2 separate regions of the Homo sapiens genome follow, and region 1 is linked to region 2. Evidence: fine-mapped expression QTL. Tissue or cell type: monocytes. Region 2 holds a variant in brackets; the other region holds the start of a gene. All regions are shown on one strand. Distances are between the middles of the regions.

Evidence for each region. PIP is the estimated chance that this variant, and not a neighbour inherited with it, causes the effect.
Region 1: it holds the start of RMND5A, and the variant in region 2 is the best candidate, but not a certain one, in a credible set for the expression of RMND5A in monocytes (Fairfax 2014, PIP 0.78).

What each region holds. Positions count from the first base shown.
Region 1 is chr2:86,718,034-86,723,667 of GRCh38, forward strand. RMND5A (required for meiotic nuclear division 5 homolog A) reads left to right here and starts at 2,258. Exons shown (of 9, transcript NM_022780.4): 1 at 2,258-2,776. The coding sequence starts at 2,635. It overlaps RNF103-CHMP3 (RNF103-CHMP3 readthrough), which reads right to left and starts at 3,089. Exons shown (of 8, transcript NM_001198954.1): 1 at 2,949-3,089. RefSeq lists an enhancer at 1,451-1,984 and silencers at 2,105-2,294, 2,178-2,336, 2,815-2,874.
Region 2 is chr2:86,773,328-86,778,327 of GRCh38, forward strand. RMND5A (required for meiotic nuclear division 5 homolog A) reads left to right here. Exons shown (of 9, transcript NM_022780.4): 9 at 21-4,714. The coding sequence ends at 84. Among named protein-coding and RNA genes, the nearest start is that of CD8A, 15 kb to the right of the region's middle. The variant TTTC/T (reference allele first, on the strand shown) is at 1,998.

The sequences.
Region 1 (5,634 bases), 55 kb before region 2:
GGGTGGGAAAGTGCTTCATGCCTGGATAGGGGTTTGTGCTGTGTTGCTACACAGGGCAGACCATGTCCTTGAGAGAGGATCTGAAGCTGTAGGTAATGAGGAGTCATTGATTATTTGTGATCAGTGGATTATCATGGCTCTTACCTTGTGCCAGGCATTTTGTTGAGTGCCTTAAATGGAATATTTCATACTATAACAACCCTTTGAAGGAGAAGAAAAAAAAAAGACTGAGAAAAGGGTGACTGAGCTTATCAAGGAGATCCTTGAAGAAAAGGGAGGAATAAACATAGATTTGTCTAGGCAGTTTGGCAGTGAAAGAAATGAGTGCTTGAGGAGGGTTAAATTAAGTTTCCTCCCCCAGGTAGGTCAAACCCATTTGGGCTGAAAGTAGAAAGGAAGAACCTACTGCAGAGAAAGAGGGGGAAGATCTGGACAGGGGTGAGAGGCAGCCCGCAGGCCCCAACGGCTGTCTTGGAAAGGGAGAAGGGACTCCTGGTCCTTTGGGTACATGAGAATGTTCACAAAATGGGTGGTACACAGCAATACTTGGAGAAGAGTGATAGAAGTTGCTGGAGCTAGATTTTTTTTTTTTTTTTAATCTCAGTGAAGAATCAGAGACATCTGCCAAGAGGGAAGAAAAATGGGGTGGGGAGAAGGGAGATCTGAAATAATACCAGTTGGGGCTGCCCTAATAATGACTACTACCACCTTTATCATGTGGTTATCATGAGCCTATTATGGGTATTTACATATATTCTCCTTTATCTAACAATTTAGTTAAGTATTAATTCCAATTATTTCTCAGTTATACGGAAGTTAAGGCTCAAAAACGTTATCACGTTAATTTAAGAAAAAGAATTGCCTACCACCTCACGCCAGGGGCTGTTCTAGGCAAAAAATTTAGACAAGCAGGGGGCCTGCCGTCATGGTTTTATGTAAGTGGTGCAGACAGAAAAATAAAACATCAGATCATTTCAGAGTTTAAGTGGTGTGGAAATAATAAAATGTGTTATGGTATTAACGGTGGGGAGGAAGTACATTAGTGTGGTCAGCCAGGGGAGGACCCTGTAAGGGGACAAGTGAGCTGAGAAGAACTTCAGGATGAAAAAGGTAGGAGGAAGAGTTTTCTGGGCCAAGGAAAGGGCAAGTGCAGAGGCCCTGAGGCACGAACTAGCTGGGCTCCTGAAGAAATGCAAAGGTAGTGCAGCCGATGCTGATCAAGGAGGTCTAGGCCAAGGCTGCAGACGCCATAGCAAGCGATGGGAAGGATTTACCCGAGGGGGTAAAGCCGATCCGATCCGATAGCATAAGGCTTCCTAGGGAGCAAGGGCCAGGCTGCCCGGCTCTCCAGCGCGTGTTCTTTCCACCCGGCTAAGCTGCCCGGCACATGGCTCTGGGGCGAGGCCACCGTCAGGAGAGGTTCCAGGCCAAGGGGCCAAAGGGCCACGGTCCGCGGGGGATGGGGACATGACCTCCTGGGTGTCGCAAGCCCGGGGCAGCGCTGACAGCCGGCGCGGGCCTTTCGCGAGCAGCAAGCGGCTCCCCTCACCCGGGCCCAATCACCCCCGCCTTTAATTCCCATTAGGGACCCCCCGCCGACGCAGAACCAGCCCCCGGGCGGCCTGGCTTGGTTTTTCATTCCCGGGAGATGGATCCGTCGCCCAAAAGTTCGGAATGACGGTACCCCTTTCCCTTAAGATCGATGAGGAGACGAAATAAATTGGGATCAGGGCGACGTCCTATGGAAAACAGCCTTTTGTATTTTTGTCTAGTTTTCCCCCAAGGCTTTCCATAAACTACTCGTTTCTCGGTACGCTCTCCAAGTCACCCCCTCCAACAGCGAGCCCGTTGGTTTGGCCCCTCAGCCCGGATTGGCTGAAGGCTTACGCCTCGGCCAGGGATTGGCTTCTTACCACTCCCCGCGCCCATTGGTTGGGGTTCCCCGCTTCTGGGCGGAGTGGTGAGGGCCGGTTTCCGCCTCCTTGTTTATGGAGCGCGTAGTTGTTGCGCTCTCCGAGCGCTGGGGCTGTCTCCAAAGTTCCCTATTTAGCTCCTCAGGCCAATTGGGGCCTCGCTCCACCCTCGCCCTCTCCCTCGCACGCCTTCCGTGTGGTACGGCCCACACCATTAGAGTGGCGGCGCGTGTGGGCGCCCGTCGCGTTCCTCCGCCCGTTCTCGCCGGGTCGCACCCCCCACCCCGAGGGTGTACTTGGTACGGCCCGCGCCGCCTCCTTTCCTCGCCCGGGTGGCCATCCCCCTCCCCCCAGTCGGCGGCGCTTGGTGCCGCCCGGGAGAACCAGGTCATCGGTCGGTTCCCGTGAAAACAAAAACAATCGGCCGCGCCGTCGCAGGCACCCGAACGTCGCGAGCGGGGCCTGGGGACGCGGAGCCGAGTGCAGCGAGCGAACGGGAGCAGCGGCGACTCGCCGGGGGGCTAGGGCGCCATGGGGCAGGCGGGCTCCGGCTGCGCGGGGCTCCCCCGGCGCCGCGGCTAGTGCGCCCGCCGCCTCGGCCGCCTCAGCCTCCCGCGCCGCCCGCTTGGGGAACGAGGAGCAGGACGCGGCCTCGGTGGGGCCCGGGCCGAACGGCTGCGGACACCTGGGCGCCGAGGAGCCGAGCGCCGCCGCCTCCGGCATGGATCAGTGCGTGACGGTGGAGCGCGAGCTGGAGAAGGTGCTGCACAAGTTCTCAGGCTACGGGCAGCTGTGCGAGCGCGGCCTGGAGGAGCTCATCGACTACACCGGCGGCCTCAAGCACGAGATCCTGCAGAGCCACGGTAGGGCGGCCCGCGTGGGCGCGCGGGGCATGGCCCACTGCCCGAGCCCCGGTCCCGGCCCCGCGGCGGGAATCCCTCACCCACCCTCGCGCCTCTGGCCCGGCCCTTGCCTCCCCTGAGGCGCGGAGGCCCCCAGACCCCTGAGACTTTTTCCCCTCTTCGTCCGATTTACCTCGAACCTGCCGCGACCTCGCTGCCAATTCAGAAGGAGCGCGAACCACCCGGAAACCCAGCCGGGAGCGGCGGGCTCCAGTCCGGATAAACGTGGGTGAGGGGGCCGCCCATCGCACCTGCAAACTGCCGACCCCCGAGTGGGCGCCCCTCGTCCCCCGCTCCCAGCCGGCCCCGGGAGTCTCACGTGGTGCCCGCGGCGCTGTTCTGTGGGCGGTGACTGAATCGCCTGGGACCCCAGGTTCTGAGTGATGAGGGCAGTGCAGGAAGCTCCGTTTCCCCTCTGTGCCGCCCCGAATCCTTGGCCAGGGGACTTCGTTTCTTCGTTTTATTTTGGAAAGTCGAGCGTTATTCTTAGCTGTGGGTTAACAACAGCCGCTCCTGCAACTTCATGATTTGGCTGCTGTGTGGACGCAGCTCTTAACTCCGCAGCGGCTCTGACATGGTTCCTTGGAAACCAGCTCAATTCAACCCTTCTGTTCTCCCAGTGTACCTTCTGATGACACCGAGGAGGAACGGGCGACATTTGCCCAAGTAAATTGTGCACATGTTGCTAGTTACTTGCTTTGCCTGGTTAAGTTCGTTCAAAAAAAATAAATTTTCCTATAGAAGGTGTTTCACCTAGATTGTTTTTTTTTTTACTGCCCCAAGCCCTGAGGACAGGTACTTTTAAAGGTTTGGTTTTCTTACACTTTAGAAGTCACAGCGATGATTCCTTTTGATCAAGAAGTGAAGGACTTATTTAATGGGTCTTTAATAAGAGGCTGAGGGGGCTTTTCAGCTTGTGGGCTGAACAGAAATTTATGTGAAGGACGGTTTGGTAGCTGGGGGAAGATGCAGATTATTTGTGGCAGGTGAGATGAGGGCAGTGGCGTTAGCTGAGTGTCTCTCTCCTTCTCCTTCATTTTTTCACACTTTCCCAGACTGCGTTTCAGTTGAGGATGGGTGCTGGTCCATGGGAAAGGAGTCTTACAGCAGCTTCTCATTCTGGACACTGCAGTCATTTTTGAACTCCAGGAAGGAAGCAAACCTGCAGTCATAGTGGATGAGATTTTAATATGGAAAAACCGTATTAATTCTCATAGGAGTTGCAATACTAGTATGGAAAAACGAGCAGACCTTGGTGGCTGCCTGTGAAGGGAAATTTGACTGACGTGGCGATGATGATATAGTTGGTAGATACAGGGAAGTGAAGGTGGAATGGGACAGGAATCCTGGGAAGACTTTGAATTTGGTTTTGGACATGTGAAGTAAGGTTGAAGGGCTTAATGAAGATAGAATCGAGGGCTTTCCTATTTACTGGTGGCTGGAGATGCATAGGTCTAAGATTGTTTTCTGATGTCATTTCTAGGAGGACAGTGGAGGGGATCACTTAGATTGCACAGAAGAAAGACTAGAGTCTAACCACAGTCTTGAATTTTCCTTGGCGAGTGGAGAGCCAAGGCTAGATAGAGCCAGCAGAAATCGAAAAGGGCGAGGACTTAGAAAAGGAGAGATTGGTCAGCTTTTATTTGGCTATTGGGAGTCAGTAACCCTCTGTGCTTGCAGTTTCATAGAATTGCTAAGACAAGCCAGATTACTGGGGGTTAAGAAGAAAAATTCGATGTGAACCGAGGTGTGGGAAATCCAGTACAGCGGTGGGAGGTATTCCCTCTGTGCTCCCGGCCCTGCCAAGGAACCAGTGGAGGAAGAGAATGAAGGGCCTAGACTTGGAGAGGTGGAAGGAACATTTCGTTTTTAGGGACCAGGTCATAGGCAGAGTTTGAGAGGAAAATGATGGAACAGAAAGTACCTTTCTTCCATGAGAGAGGATGTAAGTTGAAGGGGGATGTGATTGTGAGCTTTGTTTTAGAAAATTTAGGGCCAGGCTCAGATGGATAAAATGATGGTGAGAAATTGCTGAGGCAGGAATTTGTTTTTGACTCTCCACTGGGTACTAGGGAACTTTTCTCAGAATTTATGGTTTGAGGGGTATTGGCCACACAGTATGCTATGCTGTTAAAAACAGTCTGAGTTGGTGAGTTTGTGTGTTCCCTTTTCAGCCTCCTAATTTTTTCCCTCTTGTCTACCAAATTGCTAGTCTTATATTGGTATCTCTTTGATTTCCTTTAATTCTTCAATAATAGGATTAAGTGACTAAAGGTAGTTATAAAACATGAAAGAAAATAAATACCACAAGTGCCAGGTCTAGTTTCCCAAATAAAATCTTTCTTCTTTTGGTGTTTTTTTGTGTAAAGATAAACATCATGCTTTGGCATCTGGGCTATGGTATTTTTGAAAACAGATGATTTCTAAATTAAAGTTCTCGGCAGGTGATGTGGTAGATATTACATTGAAACTTAAATATGCCCTTCTCAAAGGTATTTTACTGAAAACTGAGTTTGGAACTCTATTTTCAAGTTTAAAGGGAAGATTTTTGGGCTTCTGAATATACCTGTCTGGGCAAATGATTCTGATAACCTGAGAGGCTCTAATTGGGACCCCTCTGTCAGGACTTTGGACCTCATTCTCTGAGATTACTTGTGGTAATACTTGCAAGAATCTGGTATGAATAAAACAGAATTTTTGAGGACTATATAGAACACATCATTGCATCATACTGGTGAATGACTGTTGCAGAAGCATCCTTTAGCCAACCTAAAGGGATTGGTTCAGTTTCTGAGGATGAATGTTTTATGTTAAAATTT
Region 2 (5,000 bases):
GTTTTCTTCTTTGTCTTTAGATTAAAATGTCCCTACTGTCCAATGGAACAAAGTCCAGGAGATGCCAAACAGATATTTTTCTGAAGAGATAACTTTAGTTTGCAATTTGTAAGTGAAACTGAATCGTGGGTGCATTTCAGAAGAGAACGTTCCATATAATGCAGCTAACCAAGGACTCCTGTGTTTCTATAAGCTAATGCTCCAGAAACTTTGCCAACCTGTTAGTGTACACACACTGAGGGGAGTGCTCCCGGTGAATATTATCATAGGGCTTTATTATATTCTTGGTCTTCATTTCTGATCAAGTAAATACACCAGCAGTTGTCATTCAATGCAGGTTTTTGTACTTAATTATATGGTGATTTTTTTACTTTTTAAGAGCAGAAACGGAAATTGACCTCCCCGCCATGTGTTTAATATTCCTCCTGCTTTTACTTTTGTCATTTTCTTGATAATCGTAAGCCTTGAGAGTGTTTGTGAAAAAGTTTTATTTCCTGTTATGTATACATAATTAAATGAAAATTCTTCAGAAAAAGTTTGATAAATTGAATTGTGGTTATGAAACTAATTTGCATTTTTATTTGCTTAAGAAAGAAAGCTGTGATAGATTCCAGATATGCTTTTTGATGTTTTCCTCTGCTCCAGCTCCAAGAAGTCAGCACACCTGCATTTTAGCTCTGCATGCAGCCCCAGCAGGCTGCGTGTTTAAGAATTTCATTGTTTAACTGGCTGGTGTGAGAAGTCTTCCGTTAGCATAGAGTGGAAGGAGTACTATTGTTTGGTTGGGTTTTTGTTTGTTTGTTTTTTGTTTTTGCTTTTATTGCCAAGAGGTGCTTGTTTTAAAAGTATGTTTAATAAAATGAAATTCTAAAGTTAGAAGTGTTCTTAAGTTGATATTTACTCTCTTGGTCTTGGTAGCCCTATTATATCATTGCAGACACAGTGTTGTGCATGTGTGTATTGTATATGTGCACCAGCATCAAACATTGTGTATCTGGAAGGAAAGCAGCATGTTCCAGTTCTAAAATGCAGTTACCAGACCCATCACTTTAAATCCTTAAAGTTAGAAGCTAGCAAATTTTCTGTAGTGCAGAACGTTTATTGCTGTTTTTGTGTTTGAATAGTATAATGTTTGATGCCTCTCTTCTGCAAAGCGTATCATCTCATTGACTGTGAATCTGTATATTATTCTGATGGATACAGATAATGATCTTTTCTCTTGTGAGGTATCTTCATTTATGCACTGTCCAAAAATAGCCATGTGTAAGAGTCTTTCTGTATGACGAACTACATGGAAAAGACTTCTGTGGACATAATTCTGACCGAAACCCATGAAGTTACTTCAGTATAAGAAGAACGTTACACGGAAATCACCAAATATTTTGCAACTTTATTTCTTCTGACATGGAGTGAACATCAATAGGAATACTTTCAAAGAAAATGAAAACACAGAAGCAAAGAGAAATGTGGCACTTCACATTTTAAACTACAGATGGACTTGGTTTGAGGGAGGGGGAATCACAGATTTGGTGCTAAGTTAATTAGAAACTGGCAGCGTTTTACAGTAGTACACCAGCCTGGATGTTTTTTCTAAAATGTTTACCTGGGAGAGCTGGGGTTTGTTTGTGAGGAGAAAGAGTACTGTGGAAAACCTCTGCTTGAGTACCATGTGGCCAGGCCTATGTGGATGGCTACTCCGTGCTGTGCGGCTTCACCAGCGGTTGGGATTGGCCCAGCTTGGAGTGCTTGTGTGGTCCAACCTCAGTCTGGCCCCATAGCGACTTTTGCCCCATGATTCTGCTTCACTGTTGGAATCCTCTTTGAAGTTCCCCCTCTCTTTGCTAAAGCAGTGAAGGAAGAGAACAGAGACAAACTCTTTGGACTGTGAAAGAGAAGGTAGAGAATTCCAGGCAACAGTCTGACCAAGGGTGTAAACCAGTTTATTATATATATATTTTTCCTTTGAATTAAAACCTAGAGTGTTGTATTTTTCTTTC[TTTC/T]TTTTTTTTTTTTTTTTTTTTTACCCTTTTTCTCCTTAGGCCAAGTTTAGCTTATTCTTATCTTTCCACCCAAACACCTACACAACGTTTAGGCTTCCTGTAAGGTTTGAATGAGACAGATGTACTCTGAAGGCTGGTGGTAAATGTGTTTGATGACCAGACTCTTCATACAGTCGGCTTGGGCCACTTTAAAGGACAAAAGCCAGAGCTCAGCTTTATCCCTCTCCCAGTGCTGGGAGCCAAAAAACTGTTGACGGTTTTTTGTGCAGCTCAAGAAAACTTTGAAAAGAACATGCTTTAACTGAAGCATTGGACTCTGCAGCTTTCTGTGTAAGGCCCGTGTACTCCCACTGGGCAGGGTGAGGACCAAAAATCTGAAACTCTTATGAATCTGACATATTATATGGAAATTATATCTTGTGACCGTCTTCAAGTGCATGGACTTAAAATTCATGAGAGACTAAATGTGAGGGAGAGGTGGATTTAAAGAGGCCAGACCTTAACCAAAGATGCTGAGATACAGCATTCTGTCCCCCCTGCCCTAGAAACTCCATAAATGCTGTCACAACCCTATCATCGCTGATGCTTTCTGCATGTCAGCAGTCCAGGAGGATGCTTTTTGTCTCTCTTTGCCTCCACTTTACAAAAGATAATATGATAGAGGCAACGTTTATAACAGTCACATTTAATTATAATGTACATCAAAGGCAGAATTTCAGAATGGTTTCTTAAATTTCCTTGGGAACCGTTTCCACATATCAGTTATAGACAAAGGCCATGGGACTATGCTAAACCAATAAAACCTTATTAGCAAATCTTTAGATTCTGACTTAGCCAGAGCATCTGAGTGTTCAAGTACAGTTTTACAGTGGCTAAGGTTGTCTCTTGATCTTTTTTCTCCGTTGTGTGATCACAGATGCTATTTCTGTTTTATTGGTGATTATACGAGACTTCTAATACATAAATGAACGGGTATTGGTGCCTCTTTATTTTAAAAAATTTGAAGAAAAGAGCCACCTCATATTCATAGGGTGTGTATTTTTTGAGTGTGAGCATTTAATTGAAAATAAGAAAGCTATGAAGTAAATGTTAACTTCTCTGTAGCAGCTAATGCATAGAGACACTAAAACCCACACCACATTTTGTGGGAAATGAGGATCCTGATCCTCTTTTGTCCTCTCCAGGTAGTCTCGCAGGTTATGCAGCTTAAGTTCAGTCTTCTTTATGCTGCGATTGATTTCCACCTCAGTGGCTTAGCCTTTGGGACAGTGGATACTGCAACAGCCAAGAACTCTTGGTTATCCGCACAAGCTGCTGGTAGACTACATTAGCCCTCTGGTTTTCCAGCTCAACCTCTGATAAAGTGGACTGAGAGCCACGCTGCTCAGTCTGTTTCGTCAGCCGACTCAGGTTATTTTCAGGGAAGGCATGGAGGCATAGTTTGGTTAGTTTCATCACTAGGATGTATAAGGTGACGACACAAACCAAATACCTTTCTTTCATCACTTAACTATACGTACTTTATCTCTGGTAACACTAGAATGCTGTGGTCTTGAGGGAATGTTAGCAAGGAACACATAGAAGATTTGGTGTTTCATAAGCCTGTCTAGGTGTGGCAGGTTTTGTGTGGTACACTGATGTTTACCATAAGCAGGTACAAGCTTCATGAACCGTTCTTAATGAACTATAATTGAATAGATACCAAAAATAGAATGACAAATGTATTTTAATAGCAGATGAGGCAGTTTTAGGATGAATTTTCCACTGTTGATTTTACTTCAAGACATAGCAAGAGAAACAAAATTTTGTTTTCAAGACATTTCCACTGCAGTTTCAAGCTGTAGTGGGCATATGCTTCATTTACTTCCAAAGAGGCAAAAGCAGCTGGAATTGGCTTACAGCACATGCTTTGTTTCATGTTATGGGTGAGGACCTACATACACTCTTACTTTAGCAGTCACTTAACCTTCTCCAGCAAGGCAGTTGTGGGGTTCACTAGGATTTAGTGCCTGATCTTTTTTTTGGGAAGGGGCGGGAATGAATGTGTTGGGGCTGGGAGGGAAGCAGAAGAAAATGGGAGTGTGAGTGAGTGTGCATGTGTCTGAAGTTCACCATTGCCCCCACCTGCACCTAGCAAGGAACAGGTGTTTGATGTATTTTGCTCATGACTGCAGTATGCATGTATTTTTTTCCTTCTCTGTGTTTTCTAAACTTACACTAAAGGATTCATCAAATCATCTTGTTCAGATGGCTCAGGATTGTATTTATTTTGCTTACCCCGTGCTCTTGGGTTCTATAGTATTTCTATAATTATGTAACGAGAATAGTGTTGCACTGTAATCTATCATATAGAGCTATATGTATGGAAAATTTTGATCAATTTTTTAAGAAATGTATCCTGTTTGCAAAGGCACAGTAAAGTTGCATCTTATAGACTATAGGCAATAAAGCTAACAATAAACCTTATTTAACACAAACCACATCCATATCCTCTGTTCATTTGATTTTGGAAAAAGTAGCATATCCAGTAGTTTCAGGGAATTCATTTTAACTTTAAGAATTCTGATATATTTAATTTATAAATTTCGGACTGATATAATAGAGTTTTGGAAAACTATAAGAAATGCTTTGTTAATGTGTGTATTCCTATGTAAAACACATGGCTTTTCCTGTGTATATTTTTAAAAATTAAAGAAATGCACATTTAAAAAGTGTTTTGTGGAACCAGTCTGTATAAATGTGCCAGGTGACAAAGGTATGAGGGAGGGAGTAGGGAGGTGCTGACTGTGAGAAGAGAAAATTGCTGTCTGTATTTGCTAAGGGTCTGCATGTCAAGAATTTAAGAAAATATCTGTCCCCATCTTACTGTGTTTCTGTGCCACCAACAGTGAGAAGAGAAGGTGACTGAGCAGTGTCCCGAGTTGTTTTTTGTTGTTGTTTTGAGACAGACTCTCACTCTGTTGCCTGGGCTGGAGTGCAGTAGCCCAATCTCGGCTCACT